Linked DNA regions of Homo sapiens. The protein of the gene in region 2 interacts with the protein of the main gene of each other region in a pairwise test. Each region holds a gene or a part of one and is shown on either strand. Other genes may lie near its edges. The genes, in order: CYTH2, CNKSR1 and CYTH3.

What was found.
Region 1: the proteins of CNKSR1 (region 2) and CYTH2 interact in binary tests that used the Homo sapiens proteins (3 or more experiments, as listed by UniProt).
Region 3: the proteins of CNKSR1 (region 2) and CYTH3 interact in binary tests that used the Homo sapiens proteins (3 or more experiments, as listed by UniProt).

The regions. Positions count from the first base shown.
Region 1 is NC_000019.10:48,464,541-48,476,100, forward strand, and holds the start of CYTH2 (cytohesin-2), read left to right. Parts: upstream 1-4,828; 5' UTR 4,829-4,967; coding exon 4,968-4,986; exon of another isoform or gene 4,987-4,993; intron 4,994-5,098; exon of another isoform or gene 5,099-5,418; coding exon of another isoform or gene 5,419-5,503; intron 5,504-5,812; coding exon 5,813-5,960; intron 5,961-6,062; coding exon 6,063-6,129; intron 6,130-7,784; coding exon 7,785-7,903; intron 7,904-8,757; coding exon 8,758-8,838; intron 8,839-9,364; coding exon 9,365-9,477; intron 9,478-9,641; coding exon 9,642-9,790; intron 9,791-10,297; coding exon 10,298-10,409; intron 10,410-11,560. Other genes in the region: KCNJ14 (ATP-sensitive inward rectifier potassium channel 14), read left to right, coding at 1-237. UniProt on the Homo sapiens protein: Acts as a guanine-nucleotide exchange factor (GEF). Promotes guanine-nucleotide exchange on ARF1, ARF3 and ARF6. Activates ARF factors through replacement of GDP with GTP.
Region 2 is NC_000001.11:26,178,283-26,187,490, reverse strand, and holds part of CNKSR1 (connector enhancer of kinase suppressor of ras 1), read right to left. Parts: intron 7,039-9,208; coding exon 6,881-7,038; intron 6,777-6,880; coding exon 6,595-6,776; intron 5,635-6,594; coding exon 5,550-5,634; intron 5,131-5,549; coding exon 5,089-5,130; intron 5,012-5,088; coding exon 4,907-5,011; intron 4,295-4,906; coding exon 4,235-4,294; intron 4,146-4,234; coding exon 4,077-4,145; coding exon of another isoform or gene 4,056-4,076; intron 3,763-4,055; coding exon 3,661-3,762; intron 3,421-3,660; coding exon 3,350-3,420; intron 3,278-3,349; coding exon 3,204-3,277; intron 3,091-3,203; coding exon 2,984-3,090; intron 2,907-2,983; coding exon 2,879-2,906; intron 2,478-2,878; coding exon 2,305-2,477; intron 324-2,304; coding exon 250-323; intron 81-249; coding exon 9-80; intron 1-8. UniProt on the Homo sapiens protein: May function as an adapter protein or regulator of Ras signaling pathways.
Region 3 is NC_000007.14:6,261,023-6,271,754, forward strand, and holds part of CYTH3 (cytohesin-3), read right to left. Parts: intron 1-10,732. UniProt on the Homo sapiens protein: Promotes guanine-nucleotide exchange on ARF1 and ARF6. Promotes the activation of ARF factors through replacement of GDP with GTP. Plays a role in the epithelial polarization.

The DNA.
Region 1 (11,560 bases), on a different chromosome or scaffold from region 2:
CCGGTCTGCAGTGCTAAGGAGCTGGATGAACGGGCAGAGCAGGCTTCCCACAGCCTCAAGTCTAGTTTCCCCGGCTCTCTGACTGCATTTTGTTATGAGAATGAACTTGCTCTGAGCTGCTGCCAGGAGGAAGATGAGGACGATGAGACTGAGGAAGGGAATGGGGTGGAAACAGAAGATGGGGCTGCTAGCCCCCGAGTTCTCACACCAACCCTGGCGCTGACCCTGCCTCCATGATGCAAACTGATGTCCCCTTCCCCGTGTATGCCCCCTTCCCCAAGGTAGCAAGATGGAGGGATGGGGCTCTCTCCTGGGATGGGGGCAGGTGTTCCTGAATACCGACAGGCCTGCTGGGTAAATGACTAGGTGGTAAGGTTCTGCCATGCCTGGTGACCCACCATGGACATACTGGACCTTAATTCCTCTGCTTCTGTGCTCCCTCCTGAGAACCCTTTATGAGCCTGATTCCTCAGTCTCACCAGAATTCTGGATCACCCAAGAGGAAAAGACTGGCAGTTCTAGATTCCTCTATATGGGGAGACCTGGATTGTTGACCAGGGTGAGAAGCCAATGGTATAGACTGCCTCTGGGGAAGCAAGTTGGCAGTTCTTGAACAGCATCAGATATCAAGAGTTTGTAGGTCTGGATTCACCTAAGATTCAAGGGAGTGTTGCTTCTCAACTCAGCCAACTGAGTAGCAAATCATTTGTTCTAGACCACCTAAGGAGGGAAGGTTATGGAATGCCCCAAGTATTCAAGATCATCTTGATTGACCAAAGACCAAAAAAAAAAAAAAGACCTGTGGTTCCAGAAAGCTCATTAGTTGAGATTCTGTGAGTCTAGGTTGACCACAGAGGCAAGCACTGGTGAGTCTAGGACAGATTTTACGTGGAGAGTTGAACTACTCCAGAAACTAAAGAGTAATGTTTCTAGAATGCACAAAACATTGTTAGTCTGTGGGTTTAGAAAGACTGAAGTGACAGATTAAGAGTTCTTGATATTAGATAACTCCAACTTCTGGCTGTAGAGCACCCAGCCAAGAGAATAAGCAGTGCTTTGAAAGGATCCACTGGGTGGGTTGTTTTTTTTTAAAGTGCCATTCTAGAATGTCCAAAGGGAATCAGGATTCTGTGGCTGTAGACTGATCACAGAGTCAAGGAAGCAGTGGCAATTCTAGATATCTGAGATTTTGCTGGTTCCAGTTTGCCCAATGGAGTTGAGAATCTCAATGATTCTAGATGACTTCTTGTGGTTCTGTAATGCCAAAAGGAATGAAGGCTCCAGGGATACAGAGTTGTCCATTACCAAAGCCTGGAAGTTCTCATCACCTCCAGGTGGACTGCTTGGCAGTGCTAGGAGGTGGACTCAGGACTTCAGAAGCAACATTTCTGGCCTGACCTGGAAGGTGAAGGTGAAGGTGAGACCCTGTAGGGCACAGGGCTAATTAGTGGACAAGGGAAGGGGGAGGCCCAGGGCTGGTGAGTCTAGAATGCTCTGGAACCCTACACCTAGTGATGTGTGTCTATTTCTTTTTCTTTTTCTTTTTTTTTTTTTTTTGAGACTGAGTCTCGCTCTGCCGCCCAGGCTGGAGTGCAATGGCGTGATCTCAGCTCACTGCAACCTCCGCCTCCCGGCTTCAAGTGTTTCTCCTGCCTCAGTCTCCTGAGTCGCTGGGATTACAGGCATGAGCCACTATGCCTGGCTAATTTTTGTATTTTTAGTAGAGACGGGGTTTCGCCATGTTGGCGAGGTTGGTCTTGAACTCCCGACCTCAGATGATCCACCTGCCTCGGTCTCCCAAAGTGCTGGGATTACGGGTGTGAGCCACCATGCCCAGCCGTGTGTCTGTTTCTTAAAGATATTATACATATGTATATTATATATATGTAATATAAATACAGATATCTATCTATTTTTTCCCTTGGTCCCTACAACAGGCTTAGAGATGGAGTGCTAGCTAATTGGAATGAGGTCCTTTTCAAGGACCCCAGAAGCTTTGCTCTAAATCCCAATGCTGCCCCAACTTACTGTGTCACTTTGGACTCCTCTTCATGTCAGTTTCCCCATCTGTAAAAACGGGATATTGGAACTTGAAGTTCTTCAGGGGCCTTTCCAGCAGGATGAGTCCTCACTACACCAAGGGTGGGATGGGCATTCGAGTCCTGGGGATTTCCCTCCTCTCCCCAGTGCTGGATCATACGGCCTTCCAGGAGACGCTGGGATGTAAGATACTCTTGGAGGCTGGCTCTGAACTCGGGTGTCTGAATCACAGGGCAAGGGTAGGCGTGGGCTGTGGCTAACAGCCAGAGTCACTTCCCTGGCCTAGCTTGGGGACCTGGGGAGGAGGAGGTAGCTCTGGACACCAGGGTTCTTCCCATTGTGGGAGAGTGAGTGTTTTAGGGGGAGACCTGTCCCCCAGATTAAAGAACTGGGAGCCCTAGCGGATGTGTCTGCGAATGTGTTTCTCGAGCATGGGTCCTCCGACCTGGCCCCCTGCCCATGCTACCATCTACCTAAGTGCCCCGCAGGCTGGGAGCCAACTGCAGAGGGAGCCAGTGACAGTGAGGAGGACGTGTTCCCACCCCGTGTTCTGGACCGAGGGCAGCCACTGTCATTGCCATTCAGCCTTCACAAGTGCTGCATCAACCCAAATGCCCCCTCCAGCTTCTCCATCTCCCTTTATCCCTCAGAATCCCCATGTAATAACCGGATGGGATTAATTAGCTGGCTGCTCTCTCAGCTCAGGGTGTCTGGGGTAGGTAGGGATGGGGGCAATGGAAACGCAGGGTTGGGGAAGGATGTTAAGTTGGAAGTGAAGGGGCAGGGAGGGGGTTTCGTTTGAAAGGAGTATGGGAGCAGGGCAGCCCAGCCTGGGTTTCCACTGGGGAGGGCAGGGCCTGGGCCACTCATAAAGGTCAGTGAGGGGATTAGGAGCCTCCATGTCTAATCCGACAGCTTAACTAGGTCCTGGCCCTGAATCCGTCTCCACCTGCCCAGCCCAGGGACAGCAAATGAGGACGAGGCCCAGACACCACTTCAGCCCCCATTACGGCTTCCCTCTTTACAGGGGTGCCTGGGTTCCCTATTCCAGCCAGTCCCTTGACCACATTCCGTTACAAATAATGGGACATAGAGGCTGGGGAAGGGGAAGGGGAAGGGGCCTCAGAGGAGGGAGGAGTTTAAGAAGGGCAAGGGTGGCTGGGCACGGTGGCTCACGCCTATGGGCACGGTGGCTCACGCCTAGCACTTTGGGAGGCTGAGGCGGGTGGATCACCTGAGGTCAGGAGTTTGAGACCAGCCTGGCCAACATGGCGAAACCCCGTCTCTACTAAAAATACAAAAATTAGCCGGGCATGGTGGTGGGCGCCTATAATCCCAGCTCCTTGGGAGGCTGAGGTAGGAGTATCGCGTCAACCTTGTGGGTGGAGGTTGCAGTGAGCTGAGATCATGCCAGTTCATTCCAGACTGGGCAAAAGAGCAAAACTCTGTCTCAAAAAAAAAAAAAAAAAAAAAAAGGGCAAGAGTATGAGAGGACAAGGGGGACCGTGACGTGAGGGGAGCCAGAGAGGAAAAAAGGCCTCTGAGATGGGAGAAGGAATCAGAGAGGTGGGAGGATGCTGAGGAAAGGGGAGTTGTCTTAGCAGGAGGATGCTTGGGGAAGGGAGGAGTCTTAGGAGGATGCTAAGCTAAAGGAAGGAGTTTGGAGAAATGAGGGAGGAGTCTGAGCGGCAGAAGGTGCCAGGAAGGCCGAGCCTGTGCTTTCACTAAATTTCACCTTCCCCTGTTCCATTCCCCATGACCGATACCAAATAGCATAGCATTTAGAAAAAAGTAAATCTTGGCCAGGCGCGGTGGCTCACGCCTGTAACCCCAGCACTTTGGAGGGCCAAGGTGGGCGGATCATGAGGTCAGGAGTTCGAGACCAGCTTGGCCAACATGGTGAAACGCCCGTCTCTATTAAAAATACAAAAAATAGCCAGGCATGCACCATCATGGTGCAACCCTGTAATCCCAGCTACTCGGGAGGCTGAGGCAGGAGAATTGCTTGAACCCGGGAGGCGGAGGTTGCAGTGAACCGAGATCGCGCAACTGCACTCCAGCTTGGGCGACAGAGCAAGACTCTGTCTCAAAAAAAAAAAAAAAAGAAAAAACGAAGAAGTCTTTTGTTTCACCACTCCACGACTCCGAAGAGGCTGAGGGGGATGGGGAGGGCATAGATGGTGATAAAGAAGGAGTTCGGCGGTAAGAAGGGGCTGAGAGGAGGGGAAATACGCGGAGAAGAAATGCAAAAGAAAAGGAGGCCTAAAGCCGCTCCCGGTTGCATGGCAACCTTTGCGGTCAGAAGCCAGCATGGCCTGCTAGGAGGTGTGGCTTACGGAAACAAGCCAGTTCTAGCCCCGCCTCCTAGCAACAAGACTAACAAAGTACCGCCCCCTAGCAACGTATTATCGGAGGCGGGGCTCGGTTTACCTAGACTCCAAGTGTCCAGGGCCTTTGAGCAGGCGCAGAGGTGGCTGTACCGCGTGGCTCCGCCTCCGCGCGACACTTTTCCGGGGCTTCTCATTGGAGAGCAAGCCTGTCAAGTGCTTTCTGTTGTTTCGGAGGCGGGGCCTGCTGCCCTGCCTGCACTCCGATTGGCCCCGCGGGCCGTCTACCTCTGGCCGGACATACCTACACCGGCTTTTTGTACGACTGTTGGCCCTGGAGAACGATCCTTTGGTGGCGAGGGCGGGGAGGACGAAAGCGCCCACTGTGGATTGGACAGTGTCAAAAAGAGGGGCGGTCCCTACTGAAGGGGCGGTTGGGCGACGAAGGGAAGAGTCTTTTCAGCGCTGAGGACTGGCGCTGAGGAGGCGGCGGTGGCTCCCGGGGCGTTTGAGCGGGCTCACCCGAGCCCGCGGGCCAACGCGGATCCAGGCCCGACTGGCGGGACCGCCCCGGATTCCCCGCGGGCCTTCCTAGCCGCCATGGAGGACGGCGTCTATGGTAGGTCGGGGAGGGGCGGGGTCGGCTGGGAGTTGCTGGAGCGTTTTCTCCTGAACGTTCCGCCGCGAACGTTTCCCCCTGGCGCGCGGCGCCCAGAAGCGTTCGGCTCAGTCGTAGACTTGTCGCGCCGCTTTTGTTGGGCGCTGGACGGGCTTCCGGCGGGGCCCGAAAGCCGGGCGTTCCAGGCCATTGTTTGGGCTGAGCCTGTTTCCGGTGGCGGCGGGAGGGGCGGGATGGAGTGGTGGAGGCGAGGCCGGGGCGGAACCATTCCCGCTGGAGGGGCGGGCGAGCCCAGCGCCTGCCGGGGCCGGGGAGGGGCGCTTGGGTTGCGGGGAGGGGAGAAATCTTGGGGGGCGGGGGCCTTCGATGTCCCGCCCCACCTTCCCAACTCTCCTGAGCTGTCATCAGTTCCCCCGGCTGTAGTGACTTTTCATGGACCCAGTAGTCCGGATAACCAGGTCCCCAGCTACCTCGCCAGTAATGGAGTCAGAAAACCAAGGCCTCAGTCCCCTTCCAAGTAATGGACCTAGAAGCCGAGGCCCCCAGCCCTTTCTTCCCTCAGATCTAAGAGCTCAGGCACCCATTCCCCTTCTCCCTCAGACTCAGGAATCCGGGCCCCAATTCCCCTTGTCCCCCAGGACTCAAGAGTTTAGAGCCCCAGCTCTTTCTCCTCTGCAGGGAGGAATCCAGGCCCCCAGCCCATTCTTCTGTGCAGACATAGGAAGCCCCTTACACATCCTCTCCCAGCTCTGTCCGCCCCCAGATTGCAGGAATTCAGGCTCACGGCCCCTAGCACTGACTTTTAAACCTTGACCCCGATCCCTAGAACCCCCAGACCTGACTCCGGAGGAGCGGATGGAGCTGGAGAACATCCGGCGGCGGAAGCAGGAGCTGCTGGTGGAGATTCAGCGCCTGCGGGAGGAGCTCAGTGAAGCCATGAGCGAGGTGGAGGGGCTGGAGGCCAATGAGGGCAGGTGAGGGCTGGGGCGGATGACCTAGGGGGCGTGGGGTTGGCTGAGGCCAGGGATGCCCAGGCATTGACCCTCCACCCCCAACCCTGCTCTCTGCTCCTGCAGTAAGACCTTGCAACGGAACCGGAAGATGGCAATGGGCAGGAAGAAGTTCAACATGGACCCCAAGAAGGTGCTTGGGGCCACAGGACTGGGATCAGCTGGGCAAACATCCAGGCAGGGGCTTCTGGCACCTCCGGGTTCCAGAAGCGTGATGGTGCCGGGTCTATTCTAGGTGGACAGACTTGGTCCTAATCCCTGGATTCAGATACTGGCTGTCCATTTGTTTTCTGAACACTGAACACTGACCAAGTGTTCCAGCCCTCCTGACTGTTTTGTCCCCTGCCTGGAAGGTCGTCTTCCACTTTCTACTTGTATGGGCGCATTTCTGGTCCCAAGATGAGCTCGAGTCTTGTAGGGGCTGTGGACAAAGTGACATGCACAAAGGAGAGTTGACCTCTCTCCCACAAAGGTGCCGTGACGGAGGAAGGTATCAGGGTAGTGGACCTCTGGAGGAGGCAGGCTGGTGGAGTCAGGGAGGGCTTCCTTGAGGAGGAGACATTCAGGTCGGGTTTGAAGGATGAGTAGGTGTTCACCAGGTGGAGGAAAGGCTTTTGTTCACCTACTCTTTGTGTGTGTGTGTGAGACAGAGTCTTGCTCTATCACCCAGGCTGGAGTGCAGCGATGTGATCTCGGCTCACTAACCTCCGCCTCCTGCGATTCTCCTGCCTCAGCCTCCCAAGTAGCTGGGCTTACAGGCTCCCACCACCATGCCCAGCTAATTTTTGTATTTTTAGTACAGATGGGGTTTCACCATGTTGGCCAGGCTGCTTCCAAACTCCTGACGTCAGGTGATCCGCCCGCCTCAGCCTCCCAAAGTGTTGGGATTACAGGCATGAGCCACCGTGCCTGGCCTGTTCACATACTCATTTAACACCCATTTTCTGAGGCCTCTCAAGAGTCTGATCCTGTGTAGGGCAATGCTGGGGACCCAAAGAAGAATTAGATGCTGCCTTGTGCTCAGAGAGCCCTTGGACACCGATACCACAGTTCACAGTGAGATAAAGCAGTAGTAGAGAGGTCTTCGTAGCACAGAGAGTGAGAGAAACCTCCAGTCTAGCCAGGGCTTCGAGTTCACAGCCCTTGAAGGACTGCGTCTGCTAACAGGTTGTCACGTTATTCTTTCCTGAAGCAATTGGAATTCTGTTCAGTCATTCAACAAACATTGATTGGCTGGGTTCGGTGGCTTATGCCTGTAATCCCAGTGCTTTGAGAGGCCGAGGAGGGAGGATTGCTTGAAGCCAGGAATTTGAGACCAGCCTGGGCAGCATAGTGATAACTCATCTCTAGAAAAAATATAAATAAATAAATTAGCCAGGTGTGTTGGGGCATGCCTATAGTCCCAGCTTCTGAGGAGGCCGAAGTGAGAGGATCCCTTGAGCCCAGCAGTTCGAAGCTGCAATGAGCTGTGATCACGCCACTGCACTCCAGTCTGCAATAGAGCGAGACCAGGTCTCAGAAAAAAGAGAAAATGTACTGAGCACCTGTGCCTTGCCAGACCCTGTTGTTGGTGCTGGAATTAACCAGGCAAAGGCAGAGAGGGTAGGCCATGAAGTGCAAAGGCCATGAGTTGGGAAGAATGCTATTTAAGACCTGTGAGAAGGCTGAAAATGAAACCTGGCCCTGGTCTGTTGAGGGTGGGGGTAGGTCTGGATGCTGAGGTTCCCAGGGAGGTGAGTGGGGTGGCTTTCTGGCCCTCAGCACTGAGACCTTGTCCCCACCCACCAGGGGATCCAGTTCTTGGTGGAGAATGAACTGCTGCAGAACACACCCGAGGAGATCGCCCGCTTCCTGTACAAGGGCGAGGGGCTGAACAAGACAGCCATCGGGGACTACCTGGGGGAGAGGTACGGTCACCACTCAGCTCCTGTGGGGCCCCTCCCTCCCACCCCCCAGACCCAGCTCCTGCCCTCACACTGGCAGCTCACAGGTGGAACAGCCCTGCAGCCTCCCCGCAGAGGGGCCCTGGCAGATCAGCCTTCTGACTGGACTGTGACAGAATGGACTGACATGGGCTAGGGGAGCCTGCGGCCAACCGAGAGCATCTGGGGATGTGGGGCCTTCTGGAATTACCTGGCAGTTGTGGGGAAGCATCCATTTATGTCTGAGAAGGGTAGAGAACATCTCTCAAGGATCATGGGAGCTTGAGAACCGTGGGTAGACCATGGCTGTGCATAGGCACTGGGTGGCCATCTGGGAGCTGTGGGGACCGCTGGGCCCTTGTGGGAGCTTAGGAGTTGTGGGGGTCATTTGGAAGCCTAGGGTGCACAGGACTGGACATCAGATGATTGGAGGCCATCTGTGGACGTCTGGGAATCAGGGATTTATAGAGATCTGGGGTGCTTGGGAAGCATCTCTGGATGTCTGGGGGATGTGGGGGCTGTGTCTGGATACCTGGGGAGCATGGGGATCATTTGAGAGAGGTGACAGTAGGTAGCATACATGTTTGCGGCATTTCTCCCAACTGTACAAAGGTCTGGCCTAAGCAGGGTTCCCAAGCCAGATATTCCTCCCAAGAGTGTGTTCTGAGCATCCCCCACCCTGGGGGCAGGCCTGTGTGGGAGTCCAGCAGGAAACTTCACCCTCGGCAGTGGGCAGCTGTGGTGCAGTAGAGGGGGCACGACTTCCCCAGGGCATTGCCCTTTGCCCATTCCTGCCCCATCCTTTCCAAACTGTATGTGTCTTTGTCCCATCCTTCCAGGGAAGAACTGAACCTGGCAGTGCTCCATGCTTTTGTGGATCTGCATGAGTTCACCGACCTCAATCTGGTGCAGGCCCTCAGGTGAGTGAGGGGGAGGGGTTTGGAACGCCAGGAATGTACCTGTCAGGGCCTTCCTAGTTACAAGTGACAAACCTTACTCAAGAAAAAAACAGAAACAAGCAAAACAGAAACAAAAACTAGGGAACTGAGTGTGTCCTGCACCATAAAAGTTCAGGGTTATGGCCTCCTTCAGGTATGGCTATATCCAGGAGCTCAAATGGTGGTCAGAAAGTCGACTTTCTTTGCCTCTTGTATTTGCCACTGTGTCAGCATTGCTCTCTGCAGACCCGCTTACCTGATAACAAGCCTCAACCAACCCCCAGACCTGTCTAGCGAACTTAGCAGAAAGAGGCTATTTCTGTAGGGATTCACAACACTCCCGTGGCCAATGCCCATTGGTGAGACTGGATCATGTGACCATACCTGAAACAACTGCTGAGGCCGGAAGGTCGGGATTCCTCGTGGACCAGTTCCTAACACAGGGACTGAGAGTGGGGACAGGCTCCCACCAGCCCTGGCATCCATTCCTGGCCCCTCCCCAACCCAGGCAGTTTCTATGGAGCTTTCGCCTACCCGGAGAGGCCCAGAAAATTGACCGGATGATGGAGGCCTTCGCCCAGCGATACTGCCTGTGCAACCCTGGGGTTTTCCAGTCCACAGGTGCGGGCCCCAAATCCTGGGTCCTGGGAAAGAGGAGACTGGGGCCCAGACTCCTAGGTCTGAGGGAGGGAGGGGGCTGGGAGCTGGGAATCCTGGGTCCTGGGGAATGGGGGCACTGGGGACTGACATGCCTGGGTCGTCACCACCTGCCCTGTCCGGTGCAGACACGTGCTATGTGCTGTCCTTCGCCGTCATCATGCTCAACACCAGTCTCCACAATCCCAATGTCCGGGACAAGCCGGGCCTGGAGCGCTTTGTGGCCATGAACCGGGGCATCAACGAGGGCGGGGACCTGCCTGAGGAGCTGCTCAGGGTCAGTCCCCCTTCCCTGCCCCTCAGCCCTGCCCCTCTTCCTGCCACAGACACCCCCGCCCCACCTGTGGTCTCCTAGTGCCCAAGCTGTCTGCCCTCACCCCCAAGATGGTGCGATCATGCCAACTCGTGTGTGATCTTTTTCTCTCTCTCTGGGTGCTTCTCTTCTTGACTGTCTCTCTCAGGCTTTGGCCCTGACAATTTTGGCCTGTCTGTCTTCTCTGTCTCTGGCTGTTGGGCTTTCCGGCCCTCGATTGGCCTCATTCCCCATCTGTCTGTTTCTCTGAGGACGTAGCCGGCTCCTCCACCTATCACCAGGGCATCTCTTCTTTCCTCCGCCACCTCAGCCTCCCTCCACTTCTCTGCCTTTCACTTCCCTCTCCTCCCCACTACCCCTCTCTCTTCCCCACTATGAGTCATCCCATCCCTGGTCTCGCTGCCCCCCACCCTGAGTAACCCTGGGGGGCCCCAGGGGGCTCGAATGGCTAATGCAGCCTTTACTCCTCAGAACCTGTACGACAGCATCCGAAATGAGCCCTTCAAGATTCCTGAGGATGACGGGAATGACCTGACCCACACCTTCTTCAACCCGGACCGGGAGGGCTGGCTCCTGAAGCTGGGTACGTGCCCTCCCGACCCCGCTGGTCCCTCCGCAGGAGGACATTTGTGGGCCTGGGCCCTGGACTCAGCTTCCGCACACACCTGCTGCCTGAACTGAGGCAAATGATTCGACCTCTCTGAACCTCAGTTTTCCACACCCAAAAAATGGGGCTGAAAATAAAATCAGGCCTGTGTGCTGGGCCTGGCCTGTAGTAAGTACTTCCCAACCCCTTCTCTTGACCCACAAATGTTGATGGAGCCCTTCTGTGCCAGGCCCTGAGCTGGGCTGAGGAGGCAGTGAGAGGCAGCTGACATTGTCCTTTCGTGGGAGAAGAGTTCACTCAGGCTTCTTTCCACTGCGTTAACCCAGCCCGAGGGAGCCAAACCCCTGGAATCTATTCCCCTTGGCAAGAACTCCCAGGGTTCCAGGCAGGACTGACCCCGCACTCCGAGGCATCAGGCCCAGAGCACTTGGCTGATCCAGGTGCCATCCTTCCCGAAACACCACCCACAGGCAGAAAAGAGCCAAACAGGCCAGGAAACCTGTCCCAGATTCTGGCTTCCAGCTGTGGAGGGAATAGCCAGGGCTGGTGCAGATGAGTCGGGAAACCCAGCAGAGATGGAGGGGGGAGTCTTCGTCATAACACGTGGCACTGGCACATTCAAGGTCGGTTAGCATGGATCAGACAGGATCGTAGCATGATGAGGGGTTAGCACAAGGACTAGAGTGGTTCTCAGCCCTGGCTGTACATGAGATTTGCCTGGGCAACTCGAAAACTCCGGTGGCTGGGCCATAGACTCCTGAAGTCAGGCTCTCAGGAGCAGAAGGGCCATCAGTCATCGTTTAAGCTCCTCGGGTGCTCCCAATGCATAGTCAAGGTTGAGAGCTACTGGCCTGGAGCCGTGCCTGGTAACAGTAGGTGCCACCTGCGTGTTAGATGTGGTTTATAATGGAGACACGGTGCACAGCTGCTCCAGAGAGACACATCTGGGCAGTTACAGTCCAGCACAGCAGTGGAGGCTTCCCGCGGCAGCAGGAGAGCCCACAGGAAGCTTTCAGCTCAGTGAAGGGAGTCAAGGTCAGGCTTCTTGGAAGGAGGTTGGACAGGGCAGCTTTGGCCTCTGAGTCTTGGGGGCCTCCCCATGTGGAACTGTGCTCTTAAACCAGGGC
Region 2 (9,208 bases):
GCACTCACATGCTCAGATCTGTCAGGGTATCAGCAGCGAAGATGAAGGGTTTGTACACATCATGGGTGAGCTGAAACACACTGCCAGGTAGTGGAGGAGCATCACTCAGCCTGGGCGTGCCCACCCACAGCCCAGAGAGGCTGGATTCTGGGCGCCCCAGCCACTTGCCACACCTCCCACTGCTACCCCATCACCCTTCCTCTCCCTTTCTGTCTCCATCCCCCAGCCCATCACACCCCAAGACTTAACTATTTCTTCTTCTGATCATGTCCACTTTCCAGACTATAGTTGGAGACATTGATGAGGCCCTCAGCCTTCTCATCCTGGGGGGATCACAGCATGAGGGTCAGGTTGGAACCCCAATACCCTCAAGGCCCAGTCAGCTCCTAGTTACCCCTCGGGCTCCTGAGAGTTGTGGAGAGGAGAAGGCATCTCCTGGGCTCTCTAACAAGTCTCTCTGTTTCTGGAGCTCAGGGCTGGAATCTGGGGTCAGGGTAGGAGATGTGGCCAAAGGATGCCTCTAAGCCAGGAAAGGGGAGCCAAAGATATCAGAGAAACAGCCAAAAAAAAAAAAAAGAGGAGCCTGAAGGCCGGGCATGGTGGCTCATGCCTGTAATCCCAGCACTTTGGGAGGCCAAGGCAGGAGGACCATTTGAGCCTAGGAGTTTGAGACCAGACTGGGAAAAAAGCCCATTTCTACAAAAAATTAAAAACTTAGGTCGGGTGTGGTGGCTCACACCTGTAATCCCAGCACTTTGGGAGGCTGAGGCGGGCAGATCATGAGGTCAGGAGTTCGAGACCAGCCTGGCCAACATGGTGAAACCCCATCTCTACTAAAAATACAAAAAATTAGCCAGGCATGGTGGCAGGTGCCTGTAATCCCAGCTACTCGGGAGGCTGAAGTAGGAGAATTGCTCGAACCTGGGAGGAAAAGGTTGCCATGAGCTGCGATTGCGCCACTGCACTCCAGCCTGGGCAACAGAGCGAGACTGCGTCTCAAACAAAACAAAACAAACAAAAAACTTAGCTAGGCATGGTGGCATGTGCCTGTAGTCCCAGCTACTCAGGAGGCTGAGGCAGGAGGATCGCTTGAACCTGGGAGGCTGAGGCTGTAGTGAGCTGAGATCATGCCACTGCCCTCCAGCCTGGGTGACAAAGCAAGACTCTGTCTCAAAAACAAAAACCAAAAAACCAAACAAGAAGAGCTTGCTCATGCATTTGTTCCTTCAGTAGACACAAACCAAACTGCTTCACACCCCTGAGCTTTCTGAATGCTGCTTTCTCTTCCTGGTTTTCTTTCCCCTTCCCATGCAACTAACTGCCAGGTATTGCATTGTCAGGGGGCATCTGGACTCCTCAGGATGGACTGGACACCTCTGCTGTGCTCCCACATATCCCTTGGGCTTTCCCTTTATCTTAGCACACGGTCCCTACATTGTCCTTGAGTGTGTATTCATCCCTCTCCCCTACTAGCCTCTAAGTTCTGGAGAAGCAAAAATCATCCAATTCTTCTCTGTGTCCATAGTGCCCAGCCTAGAGCTGGGTTCACAGTAGGCACCTGAATCCTGAATGAATAAATGAGTAAATGAATGGCCCATCATTCGGATGGACAGAATATCAGAAGGATAAGGAGAAGTGGGCAGAATAGACGTGATTTTTCGGCCAGATGTGGTGGCTCACGCCTATAATCCCAGCATTCTGGCGGGCTGAAGCAGGCAGAACGCTTGAGCCCAGGAGTTTGAGACAAGGCTGGGCAACATAGCAAGACTCCATCTTGCTATGTTGCCCAGATTTTTCAGGGCCGGGTGTGGTGGCTCACGCCTGTAATCCCAGCACTTTGGGAGGCCGAGGCAGGTGGATCACGAGGTCAGGAGATCGAGACCATCCTGGCTAACACGGTGAAACCCTGTCTCTACTAAAAACACAAAAAATATGCTGGGCGTTGTGGCGGGCGCCTGTAGTTCCAGCTGCTCGGGAGGCTGAGGCAGGAGAATGGCGTGAACCCGGAAGGTAGAGCTTGCAGTGAGCCGAGATGATGCCACTGCACTCCGGCCTGGGCAACAGAGTGAGACTTTGTCTCCAAAAAAAAAAAAAAAAAGATTTTTCTCTATACCTCCTATGATACCTTTTCCAAACTGCTTTTATACATATATTAACTCATTTCTCTCTGAATAAAGTCCCCATTTTACAGATGGGGACATCAAAGCCTTGGACCAGGAATAAGAGTGGATGATAGAATAGAGATGAGAATCGAGGCCTGGAAGTGACTCACTTGCCTACCTGTTTTTGTGTATGGGGTCTTACCTGGGGCTGGCGGTACCAGTAGAGCGTGTGTCCCTTGAGCACAAACCAGCGGCGGCGCCAGCGCGGGCCCATGAAGCCGCCCGGTGCCTTTCGCAACAGGAGCCAGCCGTCACAGTCCGGCCGGCCCAGCTCACGGCATGACACCCGCCGGCGGCTCAGCCGGGTCGCCAGGCCTGTAGCAGCACAGCACAAGCTGGGCAGTGAGGGGCTGGCAAGGTGCCCCCGCTAAACCTACTCCCTGCCTTCCACAAGCATCCCCAAGTGAGATCTCTGAACCCACACTCTGCTCAGAATGCTACATGTGTCATCTCTGAGGTGGGATGACCCTTCTTATTTTAGAGATGAGCAAACTGAAGACTAGAGGCTAACCTGTTTGCTCAGTCACAGCAAACAGGTTAGCCTCTAGTCTGGTGAGAGGCCCAGACTGGGAGCACAGCTCTGTCTGACCCTAGAAACAGAGCTGTTTCCAGGAGAGGCTGTGTGGGAAGGATGGGGGTGGTCTTGCCCAGCATGTAAAGATTTTTAACAGCTCCTCAAACAGGGGAACCCCCACCTAGTCCAGCGCACCTCATACCTTTTGATTTCTTCCGACCAACAGGACTCTGAAAGGACAGCAGAAGGGTGAGAGAAGGATCTAGGTCCAGACCCACCCACCCCCTTGCTAAGCCCCTGAGCTTACCTTGTCAGGGGATTCAGGGAGCCCTGGAGTCCCTGCTACCCCTGCTGGGAGTATGGCTGGGGGTTCCGGGGGGATGGGCAGGGGCTCAGGGCCAAGGGAGGCAGAGTCTGTCAGGGAGGGAGGAGAGAGAGGGAAAGTCTATGAGCCCAGTCCCAGGCTTGGGGTCAGAACTGGGTGCCCAGATGCCGTGTCCGGGGCATCCATGGAGCTTTGAGACTACCTGTCCAGGCAGGGCTGGGTCCGGGACTGGGGTTTGAAGACAGGTCAAAGGCAAAGACGTCTTCAGATGGGGCCCTGGGGAGGGCAAGGGGGATGAGATGAGCCCACGGTCTCCCCACCAAGACACACCTGGACAGAGCCTGTTACCTGGGAGACAGTGGGGCCAGAGACAGTGATGGGCTCCTCTGGTGCGGGGAGTCCAGGACCTGAGGGGGCGTCTGGGGAACAACCAGGAACAAAGCAATGGAGACAGGGGTCTGAAAGCAGGTTGGGGGGCAACAGGGGTAGGGGAGCAGCAGGAGCAGGTACCTGTGGGGGGGTCTGAAGGGAGCTAGGGGGGCGCAGCAGGGGAAGGTGCCTGTTGGGGGGGGTCTGAAGGCAGGTGTGGGGGTGGTGGGGGCAGGTACCTGTGGAGGGGGGGGTCTGAAGGCAGGTCGGGGGGCGGCAGGGGAAGGTACCTGTGGGGGGGTCTCCGGTATCGGGATCTTCTTCAGCACTAAGCTGAGTCCGGCTGGCTCCCGCAGCAGTTCCCTCACCATGTTCTTACGGGGCCATCCCACCTGGGGGACAGAAACACTGGCTGGTATCAACCTGGGCAGGAGGCTCTAAAGCAACCACCAACTCTCACCCTCGTGCTGGGAGCTCTCTCTCAGCCTCCCACTTCTGCCTCCCACTCATGCAGCCTCCTGGGGGCTTCCATGGGCCCCATCACCTGGGCTCTGCAGAGGATGCTCTCACCAGACTTAGCTGGCTCATCTCCTGGAAGGCAGCTCCCACAACCCTGGTCAGAACCCTTGGTTGCCTCCCCACCCACCAGACTTGGGTTCCACTCGGTGACCCCTTCACCTCCTACCATGTCCCTCTCCTCACGCACCACCACCTGCTCGTTGATCTGGACAACCTCGTCTCCAGGCTGGATCTGCAGTCGGGAGTCAGTGGGAACCTGACGTGGGGAATGGGGCCTGAGGTTGGCCTGGCTTGCAGGTGAGAGGCCTCGGGGATGGGCGGCTGAGAAGGGTGTGGGGCTCTCACCTGGGTGTCCACTTGGGACACAAAGTGCTGGCAATTGCTGGTGGTGTGAATTTCTAGGCCCTGCAGAGGCAGAGGCTATAGTCACCGGGGGCTGGGGGGCAACAGGGCCAATAGGCAGGACCCCCGCCAGACACCAGGACTCTATGGTGGGTGGAACTGTGGCAAGAGCTGACCCCAAGCTGGTCCTGCCCAGACTTGCTGTATGACTTTGGACTTGCTACTCCTGTGGGCCTCTGCCTTCTCCTCTGCTAAGAGCCAGAGGGAAGCTGGAGACCCTGATTTCTGAGGTACCAGCTTCTCAGCAACATTCCTAAAGGGACAAGCAGGGACAGGGCAGGGATAGGGCTCTGGTCTTCCCCACTGGTCAAAGATTAAACCAAGAAAGGTCACATCCTCTCCCTTTCTCCTAACTGCCCCCAAGCCCCTGCCCCGTCTCCATCCCAAGGCTGGAACACACTACCTGAGGCCACACCCGCGTGGCCCCTCAGGACTGGGGAGGTGCAGAGCAACGGGAGACCCTGGCCAATCCTCTGGGCCTCCATTTTAGCATCTGTACAAAAAAGGCTTTCCAGCCATGGCAGCACAGGGTTCTGTGGGATCCTGGACCCTATTTCAGGGCCCAGACAAGGCTGCCAAGGGGTCAGAAGTGAGAGGTGGGAGGGCAGGGCTCACCAATGGACTGTCCAGCTGCACCTGCTCGAGCACGGCCTTCTGTTCCAGCAGCTCCTTGGGGCAGCAGACCAGGATGTTGTGGCAGATCCCAGCCACGTGGCTGCACTGGGGGAGGGGAGCGGGCTATGTAGCCTGAGCCCGATCGCCCCTACCCCCACTCTCTTCCCACCCCACAGACTCACGATCCTCAGGACTGTGCCCTCCTTCTCAGCCGCTGGACCATCCTGGAAGTAGAATGAGAGAGCAGGGGCCTCCCCTGAGCAAGGGCCATAAGGGGACTGCCTTCTCCTGGGGGCAGGGTGGGATTCCGTACAGTCCCTCCCTGCCTTCCCTACACTGGCCCCCTGCCCAGAACCACAGGGCCTCAGCGTTTTAACCAGAGGGCTCGTTTCCCTGATACCAGGCCCCCAGAAGTCACCACACGTGCCCTCCCCTCCTTCCCTGTCCTGAGTGTCAAAATTCCCCTGCCAGCTAGGGGACCCCAGGCCCCATTGTCCCATACCCAGTGGCAGGGCCTCCTCTCCTCCTTTCTCGCCCGTCTCAATCCTCATACTCGATCCTGGGCTGATTCACAGGTTATAAAAAGCTCTAGCCCAGCTTGGTCTCTAGGGCATGGGCCAAGCCTGGCCCTTGGTTCTCCTACCTCATGCAAGACCTGGCTCAGCTCCTCCAACAAGTCTCGGATCTCCTGGCATGCTGAGAAATCATTTAAGTGGGAGAAGAGGTACCTGGCAGGGGAAGAATAGCACAGTGGTTAAGGGACTATGCTTAACCACTCAGAGCCAATTACTCACCAATTACTCACCTCAGAGACTTGGGGATAATACCTGCTCTGATGGGTTTTGGTTTAGAGTAAAGGAGATGATTGAGACATCTAAAGAGATTAGCACAGGACTTATTTGTCATGTGCCTACCACATGCCAAGCCCTGTTCTAGGCACTGGGGAAACAGACAGTAAAGACATCATACATCAATATCAATTTAACTTTGGCTGTAATGAGTATCATGAAACATTGGATAATGAGTTTATAATAAGTTATTATTTATTATTTATTAATAGTATAGCTTGGAGAGTGTACAACAGGGAAGGCTTCCCCGAGATGACATTTGAGGTGGGGTCTGTAGGACAAGCAGCAGCCAGTGCACAGGGTTGGGGAGGCTCTCCATTCAGTGGTTGTTGATGAGATCGATTATTACAAGCTGGAGGGTGGGGTGGGAACTCTGGCATCCCAGTGCCCCTGCACAGGTGGATTAATCCCTCTGCCCTGCTCCACCATATCTTTTTTTTTTTTTTTTTTTTTTTTGAGAGGGAGTCTCACTCTGTCGCCCAGGCTGGAGTACAGTGGCATGATCTCGGCTCACTGGAACTTCCACCTCCCAGGTTTGAGTGATTCTCCTGCCTCAGCCTCCCCAGTAGCTGGGATTACAGGTGCGCACCACCACACCTGGCTAATTTTGTATATTTTTGGTAAAGATGGGGTTTCACCATGTTGGCCAGGCTGGTCTCCAACTCCTGACCTCAAGTGATCTGCCCGCTTCGGCCTCCCAAAGTGCTGGGATTACAGACCTAAGCCACCACGCCTGGCTCACCATATCTGAACAAGAGCCAAGATCTGTTTTTCTCTCCCACGCCCTGAAGGAGGCCAAGGATGACAATAGTCCCTCACTCGTCACCCCAACCCGGGTACCTGCTGAGCCAGAAGAGGAGGGCGTCAGCTTCATGCAACAGCTCCACAGCTGCACAGAGGACATCAATAGGGGTCTTGGCACAGTCCCCCAGGCAGCCTTGGACTATGCTCTGGAAGTCATGGGTTGCCCCCAGAAGTCCCTCTGTCAGGCTTTGCAGGTTCTCTGTCTGTAGCCTGGAGCTCTGTGCCAGAAAGAGGGCAAGTCACCTCCCTGGCAGCAGCCAGCCCCCCATCACACCCCCCAGGTTGGTGGAAGCTGCAGCCAGTGTGACCAGCATTCACTCACCAGGGCCTGGAGCTGTTCCACCCCGCCCAGGATGAGCTCCTGGTGTCCCAGAGACCGCACAGCCAGAGCCTCGAGGCTTTGGGGGCAGAGCTGGAGCAGGTTCTTGCCAGGCAGCTGCCAGTCCTCAAAGGGATAGTCCTGCAGGGAGTCGTCAAGACCTGGAGGGAGAGTAAGGCTCAGCTCGGGGAAGCAGAGGTGTCAGGACCTTTTGGGATGGTTCTTCATGCCTGCAAAGCTCTTTTCCCTCTAGTCTAACCCTAATGACAACTCTGACACCCAGGCTGTTCTGCCCATTTCACAGATGAGGCCACTGAGTTGAGAAGCAGGAAAGTATAGGACATGGGTTCTTAAAAGTGGCCCCCAGACCAGCAGCAGCAGACTCACCGGAGAACTTGTTAGAAATGCAAATTATCAGGCCTCACCCCACACCTGCTGAATCAGAAACTCTGAGGTTGGGGCCCAGCAGTCTTTTTTTTGTTTTTGTTTTGTTTTTTCTTTTTGAGACAGGGGCTTGAGACACAGTCACGGCTCACTGCAGCCTTGACCTCCTAGGCTCAATCCATCCTCCCACCTCAGCCTCCCAAGTAGCTGGGACTACAGGCACACACCACCACACCCAGCTAATTTTTGTATTTTTTGCAGAGGTGGGATTTCACCATGTTGCCCAGGCTAGTCTCGAACTCCTGGGCTCAAGCAATTTGACTGCCTCAGTCTCTGAAAGTGCTAGAATTACAGGTGTGAGCCACGACGCCCAGCCAGCAGTTTGTATTTTAATGCAGGTGACTGTGATGCTCCCTTAAGTTTGAGAACTAATGATACAGGGGATAAGAACAAGAGGCTATGGAGTCACTGAGACACTGTGAACACTTGAGCAAGTAATAGCACTGCTCTGTGCCCAGTTTTCTCACCTGTAATGTGAGAATAATAAAAGTACCTACCTTCTAATCATGTGTGTATTGAATGACACAACATATGTCAAGGCCTTGGCCACTGTCTGGTTCGTGGGAGACAGCCAATAATAGCCATCATATTATTATTGCCAGACTTTACCATGACCTACAGGCCCTGTATGATTAGGCTACTACCTCCCTTTCCAGCATCATATCCTGAAGAGCCCCCTAAACTCAACATTTCAGATGCACAGAGCTAATTCCTTGCAGCTCCTGGAACACCCTTTTACCTCAGCGTCCTTGCAAGTGCTATTCCTCCTGCTGGCGTTGCTCTTCTATCTCCTTCACTTCCTTTTTCATCTAACTTCCTCCAGGAAGCCTTCCATAACTTCCCAGGCTGAGTGGGATGGAGGGCTCTCCTCTTGTTCCCACTGCCCCTGAGCCTCCACAAACCCCTGCACTTGACCATCGGTCTTTCCCATTTTATCACAGGCTCTTCAAAGATCAGGCCTTAGATAACCATTTGTCTCTAACCCCCGGCCTGTGCCTGGACAAGGTAGGCACTGAAAAATAAGAAAAGTGTCTATTGAGGGCTTACTATGTGCTATGCAAATCTATAAGAGCTTTACACATATTAACACATTTGATTCTCACTGCATTTCTAGGAGGTAAAGACTATCATTATCCTGCTTACAGATGGGAAAACTGACACAGAGGTTAAGTAGCTTGCTCACTCTTCGAAGGAATTCTTCCCCTTCTAAGCCAGGCTCCTTCACTGGGGGAGGTGTGTGTGTGTGTTCCCTGTGTCACATTGAGAGCACTGGACTGGGAGTTCATGAACCTATCACTCCCTGGCTATGGGCCCCTGAGCCACCTCCTTCCTGCACGGTGACTGTATTGGGCTGGTGCCCTCCCAATAGACCCAGGCATTGAGCTACAAATGAACTATGTCATGATTGTCTCACTTTGTCGACTTCATAAGGTCAGAGTTGCCTTTCCCATTTGATGGACAGAAAAACTAAGACCTATGGTCACAGAGCTGGCAAGCGGTGGGGGTGGGCCTGGAATCCAGCCTGGGAGTCTGAACCCAGCCCTGAATTCCTGCCCTTACCCGGGCTGGTCCTCCTGAGCCTGTCTCTAGTGCGCTCCAGCTCCCCACTCTGGGAGGGGTGTCCTGACTGCCTGCTCCTGGTCGCACTGTGTGTCAGGAGGCCCTTCCTTCTCTGAGTCTGCCTGTGGGGTGTGTTGCTTCCCATCTGTGTGGGCTCGCTGAGCCTGGACAGCACCTTGCCCCTTGGATAGGAGCCCCAGGGTGGGGCTGTGTCAACCTCTTCAGTCTGGCCTAGGGCTTCTGCTTCTGTCACTAGGAGCTCAGGGTGTGGAGCGGGGAAAATGACACCAGAGACTGAGCAAATCATTTCCTGGCTCTGTGTGTCAG
Region 3 (10,732 bases), on a different chromosome or scaffold from region 2:
AACAACTTAAAAAACTGAACAAATTATTAGAAACAACTGTTTGAAGGCATCAGAGAGCTACCCATGCAGTGAGGACTCTGGAGGCCAGGATTCCAGAGGGAAAAGGGGAGTGCAGAAAAGTGAGCCCAATCACCGGGGCCCCTTTTCTCCTTGAGGGATTCGCCAATTCACAGCAGAAGCTGGGAAGCCAAAATACCAAACAGAAACAAGTGACTGAGAATCCAAGAAGGTCAGCAGAATAGCCACCAGTCTTAGGGGACTGAGGGGACAAAAATTAGAGTTCAGGGGCTGCCAAGTAGAAGAGGCCCTGGGAAGCAACCCAAGCTTTCAGTGGGAACCACTAAAGGCTATAACCTAGAAGAAGGGTAAACCAGAATAGACCATGCCTCATAATTTTAAAGTGATATTCCGGCCAGGTGAGGTGGCTCAGGCCTGTAATCCCAGCACCTTTGGAGGCTGAGGCAGGCAGATCATTTGAGGCCAGGAGTTCAAGACCAGTCTGGGAAACATAGTGGGACCCTGGCTCTACAAAAATAAAAAATAATTAGCTGGGCATGGTGGCATGTGCCTGTAGTCCCAGCTACTTGGGAGGCTGAGGTAGGAGGATCATAGGATCATTTGAGCCTGACTGTGCTTCAGCTTAGGCGACAGAGTGAGACCCTGTCTCAAAAAAAAAAAAAAAAAAAAAAAAAAGGGCAAAGTGATATTCCCTTACTTTAACTGCCTGCCAAATCCTCAAATGAAGCCAACAGGCAGGGTCTTGAATTATCTCTATAATTTTTCACATACATTGTCCAGAATTTAATTAAAGCTCAACAGGCATATCTAGAATCAAGATCACATGACTGAAAACCAAGGATAAAACAGACAACAGAACACACTTACAAGGCATCCAAATATCGGAGTTATCAGACACAGACTTTAAAATAACTCTGATTCATACAATAAAGCAGTTGACAAGATAAAAAATGCCAGCAGAAAATTGGAATCTTTAAAAAAAATCAAGAAAACTGGAAAAGACAATAATGGAAATTAGGAACTCAATAAACGAGTTCAACAGCAATTACAGCTGAAGAAAGGATTACTACAATGGAATATAAGTCAGAAGAAGATACAGAGTGAACGATGGAGAGGCAAAGGGATAAAGGACACAGAAAAGAATCTAAGACATACAGGACACGACACAGAGGGCATGTTTAATGCACAGGTAATTACAGTCCTGGAAGGAGATGAGACAGGAAATGCAGCAGAAGCAATCAATGAAGAGATAATGAACAAGAATTCTGTAAATCTAATTTAAGATCAAGCTTTGTCACAGCACTGCCAAAGAGAAGAAAAAGAACAACTAATCCCAAGCAGGATACACTTGAGGAAAACCACATCTGGACACACCACATAACAGCTGAAAACCAAACCCAAAGAGAACATCTTAAAAGCAGCCTAAAGGGAAGAAAAAACACACTAACTGGAAAAGAGTGACAATAAGACTGATGCAGCTGACTTCTCCACAGAATCAGTGGAAGCCAGAAAGCAGTAAAACTACCCCTTCAAAACACTGTAGGAAGGCCAGGCTCAATGGCTGATGCCTGTAATCCCAACACTTTGGATCACTTGAGGCCAGTAGTTCAACACCAGCCTGAGCAACATAGTGAGACCTCCCATCTTTACAAAAAATTAAAAACTGCAATAAATTAACTTGAAAGCCTCCAACTATAATCCTGATGAAACTATCCTTCAAAAACAGAGGCAAGCTTAGCACAGTGGCACATGCCTGTAGTCCTAGCTACTCGGGAGGCTGAGGCAGGAGGACTGCTTGAGCCCAGGAGTTCAAGGCTGCAGTGAGCTATGATGGCGTCACTGCTCTCCAGCCTGGGCAACAGAGCGCGACTCTAATAAAAAAATTGTGTTTAAGTGGAGGCAAAGTAAAGGCATTTTTGACCAAAAAAAAAAATGAACCCTCACAATAGTTTTTTCCCCTGTTCATTAAGCAACACCACTACCAAGCCAGAAACCTAAAGTCATATTTGATTCCTACAGTTTCTATACCTCTAACCTTCTCCAAGCTGACAGTATGTCCATCTGATTCTCCAAAATACATTCCATCCCATAACAAGAGCTCACTTACGAGAAACCTTCACATGTACCCCTGAACCTAATATAACAGCTTTTAAAATATATATTTTGTCACTATAAAGCAACACAAATTAAAGCAATACATCATTTCTTACCCATGAGATAGGTAAATATTTAAAAGTAAGGCAAACACTGTGTGCTGATTAGAATGCTGGGAAATCACACTACTCACAAGCCCCTAATGAGAAAGCAATCTGTTATCTATTAAAACTGAAGCATGCCTATAACTCACAACTGCAATTCTAGAAATATACTCTAGATAAACTCACATTTGTGAGGGGAGAGAAGACTAGGGAGCTCACCTCAGTACCGTTTGTAACACCACCAGTGTAACATTGACATTAAAAAGTTGAACACAGGGCTAGGCCCGGTGGCTCACACCTGTAATCCCAGAATTTGGAAGGCCGAGGCAGGCGGATCACTTGAGGTCAGGAGTTCAAGACCAGCCTGGCCAACGTAGCAAAAACCTGTCTCTACTAAAAATACTAAAAATTTACCAGGGCATGGTGTTGCAAGCCTGTAATCCCAGCCACTCAAGTGGTTAAGGCAGAAGAATCGCTTGAACCTGGGAGGTAGAGGTTTCAATGAGCCAAGATCACACCACTGCACTCCAGCCTGGGAAACAGAGTGAGGACACTAACTTCAGGAAAAAAAAAAAAAAAGTTCAACACAGGACAAGATAGACAAAACGTGATCGCAGTTAAATTAAACAAGGTCTATATATAATCACAAGGATAATCTCTAATGCAAGCTGCAGAAGATTACATACAGTGTGATCTCGGCTTTATAATCTTTTTAAAACCAATTAGGGCCGGGTGCGGTTGCTCACACCTGTAATCCCAGCACTTTGGGAGGCTGAGGCCGGCAGATCATCTGAGGTCAGAAGTTCAAGACCAGCCTGGCCAACATGGTGAAACCCCATCGCTACTAAAAATGCAAAAATTAGCTGGGCATGATGGCGGGCACCTGTAATCCCAGCTACTCAGGAGGGTGAGGCAGAAGAATCGCTTGAATCCAGGAAGCGGAGGTTGCAGTGAGCCAAGATGGCTCCATTGCACTCCAGCCTGGGCAACAAGGGCAAAACTCCGTCTCAAAAGAAAAAAAAACAAAAAGGAGACCTGTACATTGCTTACAGAGGCACACGCACATCTGTTGAAGTATGAAATATATACCAGGCTGGGCACGGTGGCTCATGCCTGCAATCCAAGCACTTTGGGAGGCCAAAGCGGGTGGATCATTTGCGGTCAGGAGTTCGAGAGCAGCCTAGCCAACAAGGTGAGACACTGTCTCTAGTAAAATTACAAAAATTAGCTGGGTGTGGTGGCGCCTGCCTGTAATCCCAGCTACTCGGAAGGCTGAGGCAGAAGAATCGCTTGCACCCAGGAGATGGAGATTGCAGTGAGCTGCGATCACACCACTGCACTCCAGCCTGGGTGACAGAGTGAGACTCCATCTCAAAAAACTAACAAAAACACCATACACCAGAGGGCCCCATATCGAATTCATAATGGCTGCCTCTAAGAAACATTGAAAGCAAAGAGCAAAAGGACCAGGGATTGCTAGACACAAGTGACTTCAACTTTATTCAGTATTTATTAACAAATATTTACTGAAAGGCTACTATGTACCAAGCACTGTTCTAGATCTTGGAGATATAACTGGATAAAAGCAGAAAATATTCTTACTTTCACAGAACTCACATTGTAAGAGAAAAGAAACAAATATGTAATAGGTAAGGCGTGACATGTGCTAAGGGAGAAAAATAGAGCTGACAGTAACAATGAATGTGATTTTAGATAGGTTGGTCAAGGAAGACTTCTGTGATAAGGAAACATTTGAGCACAAACTTGAATGAAGCAAGGATACACCACATGCAGGTATCTAAGAGGAAACCACTACAGGGGCAGCAAGTGCACAGGCACTGAGGCAGGAGTGTGCTTGGCAAGGAGACCAATGAGACAGAGCAGAGTCAGGGAGGAAACGGGAGAGGAGCAACAGACAATGTCAAAGAGATAGCAGGGGACTAGAGTAGTAGTCAAGGGCAGTCCCCAAGGTCAGAATGTTTTTTACATATTGAAAAGGTTATGAAAAAAAAAAAGACTTGTGACAGAGATCATATGTGGCCCACAAAGCCTATGAGGTTTACTATCCGGCCCTTTTATGAAAAAAAAGCTTGGCTGGGCGTGGTGGCTCATGCCTGTAATCCCAGCACTTTGGGAGGCCAAGGCAGGCAGATCACGAGGTCAGGAGTTCAAGACCAGCCTGGCCAATATGGTGAAACCCGTATCTATTAAAAAAAAAAAATTACAAAAAATTAGCCGGGCATGGTGGCACGCGCCTGTAGTCCCAGCTACTCAGGAGGCTGAGGCAGGAGAATCACTTGAGCCCAGGAAGCGGATGTTGCAGTGAGCCGAGATCGCTCCACTGCACTCCAGCCCAGGTGACAGAGCAAGACTCCATTTCAAAAAAAAAAAAAAAAAGAAGAAGAAGAACTTGCAGCCCCTAAACTACAGCGTGTGGGCCATGGCCATGGTAAGGTGGTCTGAGAATAGGATTCTCAATAAACCGAGGAAAGAGCAAACTTTCAGAGAGGAGTGACATGACCTGCGTGTCAAAGGGAATCGCCCTGGCTGCAGTGTGAACAAGGATGACAATGGGAGAACCATGAGAAGGCTTAAGGCAAAAGAAGTGAAAGATGGCACCAAAATTTTGGCCTGAGCAACTGGAAGAACACCACAATATACTGAGATGGAGAGACTTACCAGTAATGCTTTATTTTTTAAAAAACGGACCTAAAAAATGCAACAGAACATTGACAGCTATTATGTCAATTCTGAGTAGTGGGAACAAGAGTGCTGGTTTCATTATTCTTTGTACTTTTCTGTATGTTTTATACAGATGTGTTTTATATATATCCTTCCCTCCATATTTCCCACTACCACCCTAACCCACCAAGCCCCGTAACTCTCACCTGAACCACTGCAACACCTCCCTTCTCCCAAGTCCTCCCTTCTCCTCCAAACCACTCTCCACTCAGGAGTCAAGAATATGCTTCTTTAAAAAGCAGGGGGCAGTGGTTGAGAATACGGATTCTGAAATGGAAGGCTTGGGTTCCAATCACAGCTCCATCACCTGCTAGCTGTGAAATTTCAGACCAATTACTTAGCTTCCCTATGCCTCCATTTTCCAATCTGAAAATAGCAATATGATGAAGAGTCAATAAATTAAGACGCAGAAAGTACACAGGACATACAGCATCAAGTAAATATTAGCTAAAATTATTGAAATGTAAATCAAATGAGATTTCCCCGTTTAAAAATCTTTCAGCGGCTTCATGTACTTAGAATAAAATCTGCATTCCTTAGCTACTGAAAGCCTGACATGGCCCCAGTCTATCTCTCCCGCTTCACTGTCTGTTCAAGCCACACAAAGCTGCTTTTAATTCTCTAGAATACTCAGCTCTTGCCAGCTCCATGCCTTCCCTTCTGTCTGGTCCACTACCCCTATAGATTGCACCTCGAAGGGCATTTCCTCAGAGGCCTTCCCTGGCCACGGGCTTTCCCTACACCTCTCCCATCCCACACTTTCTCTTCCTCAACCTCTTGTTGATTTCCTTTAACACATCTAGCATAATACATGATTATTTTATATATAGCTGTTTACCTCTTTTGTCTGTCTCTCCATCTAAACATGAGCTCCATGAACGTGGGAAATTTATCTGCCGTATTCACCACTGTTAGGCACTGATACAGTTTGGATATATGCCCCGCCCAAATCTCATGTTGAACTGTAATCCCCAATGCTGGAGGCAGGACTTGGAGGGGAGGCGACAGGATCATGGAGGCAGATCCCTCATGGCTCAGTGCTGCCCTTGCAATAGTGAGTGAGGACTCCTGAGATCTGGTCGTTTAAGGGCGTGGCATCTCTTCCCTCTTGCTCCTGCTCTAGCCATGTGATGTGCCTGATCCTGCTTCACCTTCCATTATGAGTAAAAAGCTCCCTGAGGCCTCCCCAGGAGCCGAGCAGATGCTGGCACCATGCCTGTACAGCTACAGCCTGCACAACCATGAGTCCATGAAACCTCTTTCCTTTATATATAACCCAGGCTCAGGTACTTCTTTATAGCAATGCAAAAACGGCATGACACAGGCACTAATAGCTCTTGTGCCATGCATAGAACCTGGTATTTGGTAGAGACACCATCAACATTTGAGTAAATGACTACAAAAGAATATACTCTAAGCATAATCTAAAAGCATCCACTTTTTAAACTCTCAAAAATACAGTAGTTAACTTACTACAGAATGAAAAATAGGTAACATTTTATAACCTTACATTGCATATCACATTATCTTTTTGTTGCGGTCTTCCCAGAATATTTTGTTTGTTTGTTTTGAGACCGAGTCTCACTCTGTCGCCAGGCAGTGGCGCTATCTCGGCTCATTGCAACCTCTGCCTCCAGGGTTCAAGCAATTCTCCTGCCTCAGCCTCTCGAGCAGCTGGGACTACAGGTGCGCATCACTATGCCCGGCTAATTTTTGTATTTTTAGTAGAGACGGGGTTTCACCACATTGGCCAGACTGGTCTCGAACTCCTGACCTCATGATCTACCCGCCTTGGCCTCCCAAAGTGCTGGGATTACAGGCGTGAGCCATTGCGCCCAGCTGTATTTTTTAATCTATAAAAATTCCCTCAAAAAAGGTGTAAAATGGGTATTTTCTTACCATCATACTATTTTTCTATGAAACTGCTTTCCAATTTTAGAAAAAGTGAAGACAGATTATTCAAACTTTTTTGAATTTCAAAAAATAAAAAGGCGCATAGTGAAAAGTTTCCTTCCCACCTATATTCCCCATCCACTCAGTTCCCATCATCTTCCCCAATCAGGTAACCATTGTTATTGGTTCCTCCTTTCACCTTCCAGGGAATCTGCATGCATCAGCCATTACCTCCTCTTTCAAAACACAAGAATGGGAGCACGCAATGCACACTTTCCTACACTTTGCTCTTGTAATTTTGTTTTGTTTTTTTGAGACAGGGTCTCACTCTGTTGCCCAGACTGGAATGCAGTGGCGCAATCTCACTCACCGCAACCTGCACCTCCCAGGCTCAAGCGATTCTCCTGCCTCAGCCTCCCGCGTAGCTGAGATTACAGGCACGCACCACCACTCCCGGCTAATTTTTGTATTTTTTTAGTAGAAACGGAGTTTCACCATGCTGCCCAGGCTGGTCTTGAATTCCTGACCTCAAATGATCCACCCGCCTCGGCCTCCCAAAGTGCTAGGATTATAGGTGAGAGCCGCCGCGCCCGGCCTGCTCTTGTAACTTAAGATATTTTGGAGATCTCTCCATGTCAACTAAGAAAAGAGCTTCCTCGTTCCTTTCTACAACTTTACAACCTCATTAACCATCTGGGCATGGATTTATCTGATAAGTCTCTTGCTTGCTGATGGACACTCAAGGCAATAAATAATCTTGTACCTATGTTATCTCACACGTGTACAAATATATCTGCAGGTTAAATTCCTAGAACTGGATTGCTGGGTCAAAGGATTTACACGCCTGTAATTTTTAAAGCTACTGCCTAAAGCACCTGTATCTATCAGGGTCCACCCAGAGAAACAGAGACATCCAGAGAAACCATCCCTTTAAGAATCTGATATAGAGGGAATTTAATATAAGGAATTAGTGACAGGGGTGATGGAAAAACTGAAAAGCCAAACAGGAAATGATAATACAAAGATTATCAAGAGCAAGCTGCTGTTACCACTTCTCAAATAGAGGGTAAAAGGGAGGAGGTATTTCCAAGACTCAAAGGCTAGGACCAAGGGGCAGGAGCTGGAGCCAAAAGGAGACAAGGTACCTGCCAGAGACACTCCCTGAGGCAGGCCTAAGGGAAATAACCTGTTTTTGTCCTTCTTCCTGCCATTCCTCCTGCCAGTGGCTCCCAGTGGCCAATCCCAGCCGGAAGCCAGCTGACCAAGGGCCTGGGAAATGTTGCCTGCAGGGGTGAGTCCCTGCAGGGAAAGGGCAAGAAACGGATCTGAGCCAACAGGACATGGGCTGACCCTGCCTGTGGCTACTTTACACTCTTACCCGTAAATGTTTGAAACGACCTTGCCGTTCAAATATTTCAAACTTGAAACAGACTTTGTATACTTGGGGGTTATCACCTGTCTGAAGGTGAAAGGTGGGAGCTCAATCTAGTCTTAATTTGCATGTATTTTATTATGAACAAGGCTCAGCATCTCTTCACCTGAAGCACAGACACCTACATTGATCAGGGAGTGAAGGGGTCAGAGAGAAGAATGCCAATTATAGTTAATTCACCTCATCTGCCAGGGATGGTCCATTCAGGACCATCAATCAGACAAATGCCCAAACAGGACACGAAGACAATCCCAATGAGCCAAACTAGCCAGCTACCCTCCAATTAGCTCAAGAACTGTTCTCGAAAAACTGAAAGGCAACAAAGTCCCATAGGAATTAAAAACGACTTAACTACACTCTGCACACACTGTAAGGAACAATGTGTTCTTGTAATCTTGTGCCCCCCACTCGCTCCTCTTGTAACTGCCTTCCAGCCATTCATGCCACCATCCTCTCTCTCCTTATCTTGCATTGAAAGAACAATACAGTGGACAAAAAGCTAAATTAACTTATAAAAATAGCAAGTAGGAATCAATTTTTCAAGTCTTTTAACCTGACCATTAACAAAAAAAAGACCTTTTCAATTATCTTTGGCTTCTACCATAACTACTGTTTGAATAGATTATTTACCCTATCTTTTAAACAAGCTTTAACTGACTCCCCCAGATACAGTTCAACATTATGTACTACACTCTAAAAATATACCAAAAAATGTTATGCTTTATAATCTGCTGGCAGCTGAAACGGTTTTCTTTAAAAGAGCTCAACTTTATTTTTTTAAACATGAATTTTAAAGCATTTAAAAATCTAAAAGGTATTAACTGTAAAGAGGTATGTTAACTTCAAAACTTACAACAGCCAAGAGTTAAATGTAAGCACATAAAGTTTATACAATAATTACAATATCACTCATATTTCAAAACTTTGCTTTTCACCTGTTTCAAAAATAAATATCCTAATATTGCCAAAAATATTTTTAAGTGTCTGTCACAAAGCAAGGGAGAAAGCTAGTCATAAACTAAATCAATAAAGGTTAAAAGTTATTTTCCAGCACCTAACATGCTGGCTAGCATTTTGATGGGCAATCAATAAATAAATCTTCATTGTTGAATGTTCCAGTGAGATGAATTAAATGATACACTTAAAACATTCACGTCTTTGATGGTTTTTTTCCAATCTGAAATACACACTTATTCCAGAAACCTGGAAAATATAAAAAGAAAATAAAATAATCCATAATGTCACCAATGTTTATGTTGTTTAAACCATGATGTATAAAACTGCTTATTTTAATGGTTGTAAAATACTTCAATAAACTTCCCATAATTTACCTCACCATGCCCCTGCTGTTGGCGTTGCTGTTTCCAATTTTTTGCTATTTTAAACAGCATAATACACATCTTTATACGTGAGGGGTTTATTTCAAGGTTGCTTCCCTGTGATATATTCCCAGAAGAGATACTAACAACCCAAGGACAATTTTAAGACTTTTGATACTTCATATCATCCTTTGTTATAGTACTCAAGACCTGCAAATTGCTGGAGCACATTAAAGCCTCCTCTTTTCCTCTTTATTCCTGCTTTAATCTTCAAGTCTACATTTCTTTACTCACAGAGCCCAAAGCACCTTACAAACAAAACTGCCAAGCCAGCTAGCTGCCTTGACGCTAATGTCCAACGTCTGCATATTACAGTTGTCTTTCTTTTCTAACAAGGGAAAACAGCTATGCCCAAATTGTGACAGGCAGGAAACACGACATCCACCGGGAACCCATTCCTTAGGATCTCATGGCTCCAGACAGCCTGACTGTAGGAGGGTTCGCAACTGGGCGCCTTCGTTCCACAGCGCTCCCATCAACACACCCACTCGGTGCCACAGTGCTACCCCTAGCTTCAACTATAAGAACTGAACTCGCCAAATGCCATGACGGGTGCCAACTTCCCACCATCCTGGCTGCATCGCGTCTTTCAGCAAAAAAACATCTCCCTCTGAGCAGCACTTGAATTCTGGAAGGCACCTTGATGATGAACCACTTCATCCTGAAGCATTCAATACTGCTGATTCTTACAGGCAGCTGCACCGGCAGCCTGTAATTAAGATTTCTCTAAACTGCTCCCTTATTACATGGGGTTCTGATGATTCTGATGATTTCTCTGTCAGCTCAAAGGAGATCTTCAGGAAAAAAAAAAAAAGTCTAGAGAACCTCAACTTCGGCTGTTCCTGTAAAAACACGGGCATTAACCCTTTGCTTTCCAAAGCGAACACCCACTCCATACAGAGGCACGTTCCTCTGTTTTTAAAATCTAATTCCCAGCATGACCCAGCAGTCATTTGTATTCCACTAAATAATTTCCAACAAACACGATTCCTCCAGCAAGAGGAAACCGAACGTCAGACACAGACCACCTGGGCCACGACGCGCATCGACCCGACCCACTCGGGAGCACA